Homo sapiens: one gene and its partner. The protein of the gene in region 2 purifies or fractionates together with the protein of the main gene of each other region. This does not show direct contact. Each region holds a gene or a part of one and is shown on either strand. Other genes may lie near its edges. The genes, in order: LMF1 and LPL.

Evidence for each region.
Region 1: the proteins of LPL (region 2) and LMF1 purify together in Homo sapiens (affinity purification with western blotting, with the first as the bait; one study listed by BioGRID). This does not show direct contact.

The regions. Positions count from the first base shown.
Region 1 is NC_000016.10:957,229-961,044, forward strand, and holds part of LMF1 (lipase maturation factor 1), read right to left. Parts: intron 1-3,816. UniProt on the Homo sapiens protein: Involved in the maturation of specific proteins in the endoplasmic reticulum. Required for maturation and transport of active lipoprotein lipase (LPL) through the secretory pathway. Each LMF1 molecule chaperones 50 or more molecules of LPL.
Region 2 is NC_000008.11:19,945,721-19,949,536, reverse strand, and holds part of LPL (lipoprotein lipase precursor), read right to left. Parts: intron 1,358-3,816; coding exon 1,197-1,357; intron 1-1,196. UniProt on the Homo sapiens protein: Key enzyme in triglyceride metabolism.

The DNA of each region.
Region 1 (3,816 bases), on a different chromosome or scaffold from region 2:
GCAACCCCACAAGTACATGCGGCTTCCTACTGCGTGTAGGAATCTGGCTTGGGGTCCATGTCTGTGTAACTGTGCATGCTGGTTTGGAGTGAGTGTCTGTGTAGACATGTAGGAAGCTAGTACATGTACTTTTCCCCATGCATTTATAAATCTAAAAACATATAAACGGAATCTGCACATGGAAAACTACAAAACACTGATTAAAAAAATGAAACAAGATCTAACTATATGAAGAGATAGACCATGTTCATGGATTGGAAAAATCAAAATCATTAAGGTGTCAATTTGATCCATAAATTCGGCACAATCTGAACCAAACACCCAGTCAGTGCTTCCGCCGAGGCTGACAAGCTGATTCTAGAATATACATGGGAGAGCAAAGGGATTAAAAAGCCAAAATCATCTGGAAAAGAACAGAGGTGGAGGACTCATGTTACCCAATTTCAAGACTTACTAAAAAGCTAATCAAGACCACATCAAGACAGCGCAGTATTGATTAAGGAAGAGCCGCAGAACTCAATGGAATGGAAGAGACGGCCCAGACACAGCCCCCCTGCCCCCGACCCGACACACAGAGTGAACAAATTCTGACAAAGGTTCAAAGGCAACTACACAGACAAAGAGCAGCCTTGGGCCGGGCGTGGTGGCTCACACCTGTCATCCCAGCACTTTGGGAGGCTGAGGCAGGAGGATCGCTTGAGCCCAGGAATTCCAGAGCAGCCTGGGCAACATAGTGAGACTCAGTCTCTACAAAATAAATAAAAAAACAAAGAAGAGTCTCTGTAACAATCATGTTGGAACAGATGGATGTCCACATGCAAAAAGATGGACCTGAACACACTTCACACCTTACACAAAAATTAACCAAAAAGGATCATAGACCTAAATGTAAAACATAAAAGCATAAGACTTCCAGATGGAAATATAGAAGAAAATCTATGTGACTTGGGTTTGGCAACAAGTTTTTAGATACAACACCAAAAGCATAATCTATGAAATTAGAAACTGTAAATTGAACTTTATCAAACTGAAAAACTTTTGATCTGCAAAAGCTACTTTTAACAGAATGAAAACACAAGCCGCAGATTGGAAGAAAATACTGGCAAATCACACATCTGATAAAGGATTTGTATCTAGAATATTTAAAGAACTTTTAAAATTCAATAATTAGAAAACAAACAACCCAATGTTAAAGGTGGGAAGAAAAAACCAGGCCACAAGGTCTGAACAGACATAGGAAGGTGTACGGATGGCAAATAACACGTGAAAAGATGCTCAACATCCTTCATCACTGCGGAAATGCCCATGAAAACCACAGCGTGCTGTCACCACACACACGTCACATGGCCGAAGTGCTTGAAAACGGACAGTGCCCAGGCCGGGCGCGGTGGCTCATGCCTGTAATCCCAGCGCTTTGGGAGGCCGAGGTGGGCAGATCACCTGAGGTCAGGAGTTCAAGACCAGCCTGGCCAATGTGGTGAAACCCCGTCTCTACTAAAAATACAAAAATTAGCTGGGCATAGTGGTGCACACCTGGAATCCCAGCTACTCGCAAGGCTGAGGCAGGAGAATTGCTTGAACCCAGGAGGCGGAGGTTGGAGTGAGCCGACACAGCGCCACTGCACTCCAGCCTCGGCGACAGAGTAAGACTGTCTCAAAAAAAAAACCAAAAAAACAAAACAAAAAAAACACGAACATGGACAGTGCCCAATGCTGCAGAAGGTTCGGGACAGCAGGAGTGCCCTCGCTGTGCCGGGGATGCTGTGGCCTACCACTGTGGATGGCAGACGGTGGCATCTGACCCAGATAATGAAGGGTTACCTTACAAATCAGCTACTGCACCTCTCAGGCCTTCAACCTGAAAGTGTGCTCGCACAGAAGCCTCATGCAGATGCTCATAGCAGCTCTGTTCATAGCCACTAAAAACTAGAAACAAGGAAGACATCCTTCACGGTGGAAGTGGATAAATAACCGGAGGTGCATTTGTGCAACAGAAAAATAATCAGAGATAAGAATGCAGCTGTTGGTTCAGGCAATAACATGGATGAATCTTAAGTGCATTTTGCTAAGCAAAAGAATCTAGACCCAACAGGCTATATACTGCGTGATTTCATTCGTATGTCACACTGGAAAAGGCAAAACCAGAGGGACGGGAGACAGACCCGGGCGTGCCAGGGGCTGGTGCAGGGGAAGTGGTCACTCCCATGCACGGGGGACTTGGGGCTGGAGCTGGGGTGATGGAGGCAAAGCCCACAGCACTGAGCATTACACGAGATGAACTTCAATGTGCACAAACTATTGGGGGAAGACCCGACCAGGAGGTTGGGGGATGCAGATAGAATACAGGCTCCACACGCACGGATGTGAAACAGAAACACACTGGCCAGAGGGCAGGAGCCGCCTAAGCAACTCCGGAAAATGTTCTGAGTGGAGACCGCAAGGCCAGAAGGAGCTGTACACAAACGCTGCACTCCAGGGCTTTCCCCCCCGGGCCTGGGTGGACAATTCTCGCACGTGCACCAGGGCTGAGCAGATGCTAGAGGAGTCAGGGGAGCCAGGTTCCCACTAGCAGAGAGGGAGGATTCAGATGGGCCAGCAGGGAAGACTGGAATACACCGTGTGCCAGGACGGGAGGATGGAATACACCATGTTCCAGGACGGAAGGCTGGAATACACCGTGTGCCAGGTGAGAGTCAGAGTCATCGGCATGGACCAGGTTGACCTTCGTATACTTACAGATGGATAGGTGGATACGACAGAGAAGCAATCAAATGTGTGAAATGAGATAGTGACACACAGAGCCTAGCTCTACCCAGGAAGAGGGCCAGCAGCTGTGACACCCCGGGAGCAACGGCCCTCCCAGTGCCCAGACTGAAGTTTCTATGCTCCCCTAAAAAGAACCAGGGCTCCTTGGAAACAACTCATTCTAGGGCTGGGGCAGAGAAACAGAAGCTGGGCCGGAAGCATCCCTGCGGGGAAGGAGGGGAAACCCACCAGTGGTCAAAGCTGGAGGAGCTGAGCAGCAAACTCACAGTGACAGCACTGGATCATAACCCAGACAAAGACTCACAGTGACAACACTGGATCACAACCCAGACACAGACTCACGGTGACAGCACGGGATCACGACCCAGACACAGACTCACGGTGACAGCACGGGATCACGACCCAGACACAGACTCACGGTGACAGCACGGGATCACGACCCAGACACAGACTCACGGTGACAGCACGGGATCACGACCCAGACACAGACTCACGGTGACAACACTGGATCACAACCCAGACACCATCTCATGGTGACAACACGGGATCACGACCCAGACACAGACTCACGGTGACAGCACGGGATCACGACCCAGACACAGACTCACGGTGACAACACGGGATCACGACCCAGACAGACTCACGGTGACAGCACGGGATCACGACCCAGACACAGACTCACGGTGACAGCACGGGATCACGACCCAGACACAGACTCACGGTGACAGCACGGGATCACGACCCAGACAGACTCACGGTGACAGCACGGGATCACGACCCAGACACAGACTCACGGTGACAGCACGGGATCACGACCCAGACACAGACTCACGGTGACAGCACGGGATCACGACCCAGACACAGACTCACGGTGACAACACGGGATCACGACCCAGACAGACTCACGGTGACAGCACGGGATCACGACCCAGACACAGACTCACGGTGACAGCACGGGATCACGACCCAGACACAGACTCACGGTGACAGCACGGGATCACGACCCAGACAGACTCACGGTGACAGCACGGGATCACGACCCAGACACAG
Region 2 (3,816 bases):
CACTCCAGCCTGGGCAATAGAGTGAGCCTCCATCTCAAAAAAGAAAAAGATTCCTTTTTCCTACTTACACCTATTAAAATATTAAAGGATTTATGTTTAGGAATTTGAGATTTTATCACAAAATATTGAATTTACTATGTTAACATAGTAAATGGCTATATTTTGTTAAACATCTGTGTGAATTCTGTTAGTAGTAGTCTCATCTCTATAAAAATTGTAGCGATTGTCCTCTTCAGTCAATAACAAAGCCACTTAAATTATGTAGGAAAAGAAATGTGGACTAGATGAATGTTATTTTTAGTTAGTTCTCACTAGAAATTAGTATTATAATATTCACAAGCTCTGACATAATGGATAGATAATATATCTTTAACAAGCCATTTTACACAAATCCTTTTAAATAAATTACACAGTCTACTCACTTGGGATTGAAACATTTTAAAACAAACTAAGCAAGAACTACATAATCTAAAGTGACTGTGTGACATATTAGAGAGGGGACTTTTAACAATTTTTTAAAGTAAATTTAATCACAGTTTCACTTTTTCTAATCATCTGGCATGTCAGCATGTCAGTTCCCTGCCCAGCCCTTTTTTTTTTTAATTTCCAGAAAGGCTCCCTAAAGTTTACAACTGGAAAATTTTGGAAGTAGAGTGTTTTTAGGGACATCTAGTGCAACCTCTGCTTTACAGATCAGTAAATGGAGGCCCAGAGATGACAAGTGACTTGATCCACAGCACAGAGCTGGAGAATGGCAAAGCCAGCATGGACGCCACACTTCCTCACTCCACTCCAGCCCTCTCCTCACTCTTCCATGCTGTCTTCTTTAGAAAGGTTCTCCTGGCAATGTGCTGGGTGATGCGGGATCATGCCAGGGTTCCACCGGTTCCCCACAGCAATCACCTATCTTCTGCTCAGTAGCTGGGCAGAGCATCCTTTACCAACCTCGCAGGAAGCTCTGGCTCAAGGGCACCAACCAGGTACAGTGTTAAAATGAAGGCTGGCACTGCCTAGGGGGAGTTCTCATGAACCTGTGGCTTCAGATCCCACCTGAGCCAGAACTGTCTTTATTCAAGTGTAAGGAGATCCACGTGAGATGTGGGGTGCGGACCCATCACTGGGTCCCCAACAATTGGGCAGGCCAGTCAGGATACCTCACCACCCCAATCCACTCTTCCCCAAAGAGCCTCCCTTACCGTCCAGCCATGGATCACCATGAAGGTTTTGCTGCTGTGATTGAAATGACAGGTAGCCACGGACTCTGCTACTCCGGGAATGAGGTGGCAAGTGTCCTCAGCTGTGTCTTCAGGGGTCCTTAGGGCAAATTTACTTTCGATGTCGATAAAATCTCTTCTTTCTGGAAAGGAAAAATTGGATATGAGGTTAACTGGAGGGTTGCTTGATTTTATTCATTGGAATGATATGTTTTAGGTTCACAGGCAACCACCGCTGATGCTATTTTTGTTTCTGAAGTGTTTTCGAAAACGAATGTGGATTGCAAGAGAACAACAGATGCTCCAACGTTGAGCAAAGTTGACAGAGAGACAACCTTAACTCTGAATTAAGATTGTCACCATTGACCTCTCCTAAGTCTTCCAGCCTTTCTTGAAGCTCTCCTTAGTCAGGGTATGTGTGTGTACGTTTGTGATTTCAACTAAGGGAACTGCTGTTTGGGGATTCCTTAGTTAATTCTGTCTTCTCTCAAGACATGAATTTAAGTGACTTGGCTGAGGCTACCCTGGTATTAGTGGGAGGGTGAGGATCAGAGCCCGGTCTCTCAGTTCCACTTTGAAGCTTGCTTTCGTGGAGAACACTGACTCATGCATGGCTCTTGTGTGCTATAGTTCCACTATTTGTGTGTGTGTGGGGCGGGGGGGGGGTTGTTTTGTTTTGTTTTGTTTTTTGAGACAGGGTCTTGTTCTGTGTCCCAGGCCAAAGGAGTGCAGTGGTGCGATCTTGGTTCACTGCACCCTCGAACTCAAGTGATCCTCCCACCTCAGCTTCCTGAGTAGCTGGGACCACAGGTGCGTGCCACCACGCCAGGCTAACTTGTATTTCTTGTAGAGATGAAGTTTGGCCATGTTGCCCAGGGTGGTCGCTATCTCCTGGGCTCAAGTGATCCACCCGCCTCAGCCTCTTAAAATGCTGGGATTACAGGCATGAGCCACCGGGCCTGGTTAATTTTTGGATTTTTAGTAGAGATGAGGTTTCACCATGTTGGCCAGGCTGTTCTCAAACTCCTGGCCTCAAGTGATTTGCCCACCTCAGCCTCCTAAAGTGCTGGGATTACCAGTGTGAGCCATCGGGCCGGGCCTCTATTTTTAATAAAATAATTTAAAAAAAATTTTTTAAAGAAAAGTTGGAAGCATGAGGAGGCTTTTGTATGAAACTGTTCCCACTCCTATGGCAAGATATACTTCAAAATGTTCTAAGAAATAATTTAGTAGGTTGTTCAGAAATACCCGTGCTATGTATCAGCCATGGTTAATTCTCTCCCCAAATATTTCTTTTCCCACTATGTCATTACAATGTTCCACACAAAGGCAAAACTTGAAAACCACAGCAAACCTTGTTGTTGAAAGGGTTCACTTTGGTTCTTCATAGTTAATCCCAAACTTGGTGAGAAGAGAAAGACAACCTAGTTTTTGAAACTATGGACAATAGTTATAAATGCTGCTGAATCTTCATGGGGTACAGTGAATAGTTGAAGTAAATTATATTGCAAATAAAATCAGACTTCATGAAGCAGAGCACAATCAAAGGGAAGTTATGTTAAAGGGAAATCATTTAATTCCTTTTCAAGTAAAGAAGTTAAAGAAAACGACCCATAACACCCACCTATTTACTGTAAGAAGGTAATAACTTGTAGATTTTAGATTTTGCCGTTCGAAATTTCAGGAGATTCATGAGGCTGCGAGGACTACTTCTCATTCCTTAATCTAAATTTGCTCTTTTTTTTCAACTCAAAATTTAAAAATCTGTAACTTCAAAATAACTGCGGAAGTCAGGCCAATAATAAAAATAAGAGTGTCATAGTGAGAACAGTGAAAGAATAGGCATTTGAATCAGCCTTATCTAAATATCTGAGGATTGGCCAACATTTTCCTATTGAGTAATTATTTTCTAAAATTCCTTAAACAATATTGTGGTTTAAGAAATATGCAATGAGTTGATCACACACACATACACACACACGTGCACACACACCTCCGTCATCTAAAATGTAGGAGAAATTTCTTAATGATTCTAATTATGAGAAAAGGAGTTTTGTTACAATGGGTAAACACTCCAAGATCACTTATTCAAATAAGAGTCTTGCTAAACTATTGATCTTTAAAGCTCTTTTCATTTGCATATAGTAAAAGTACACGTGAATCCATTCATCCACCAAGAATATGCTCTACTTCTCATCTTTATTTGAAGATGTTGGTAGCCTTCTTCCTTCCCAACCAGAAAGCACTCTAGTAGCTTTACTATTTCTCTGATAATGGAAGAGTATTGAATACTTTTAATCTAATTCTGCCTTCAGTGCCCAAGAACTTCTTTTCCTGTTAAAAAGTGCTTTAGAAAATTTAAAACTAATTTCACCCTCTCCCACACCTTTCCACCTTAAATAGCTCATACCTCCTCTCCACAGGTCTTATTTTAACATATTCTATGATCAATCTTTTTAAAGCAGAGATGATGTGAACAATCTGGCAGACAGATCTCGCTTACCACCTATTTGCCAAATTGACATTTTAAGAATAATGCTCAGTATAACTCCAGAGGCTGCCATTCACTTTTAGTCCACTTTCCCCTAGAATTATGCAACTT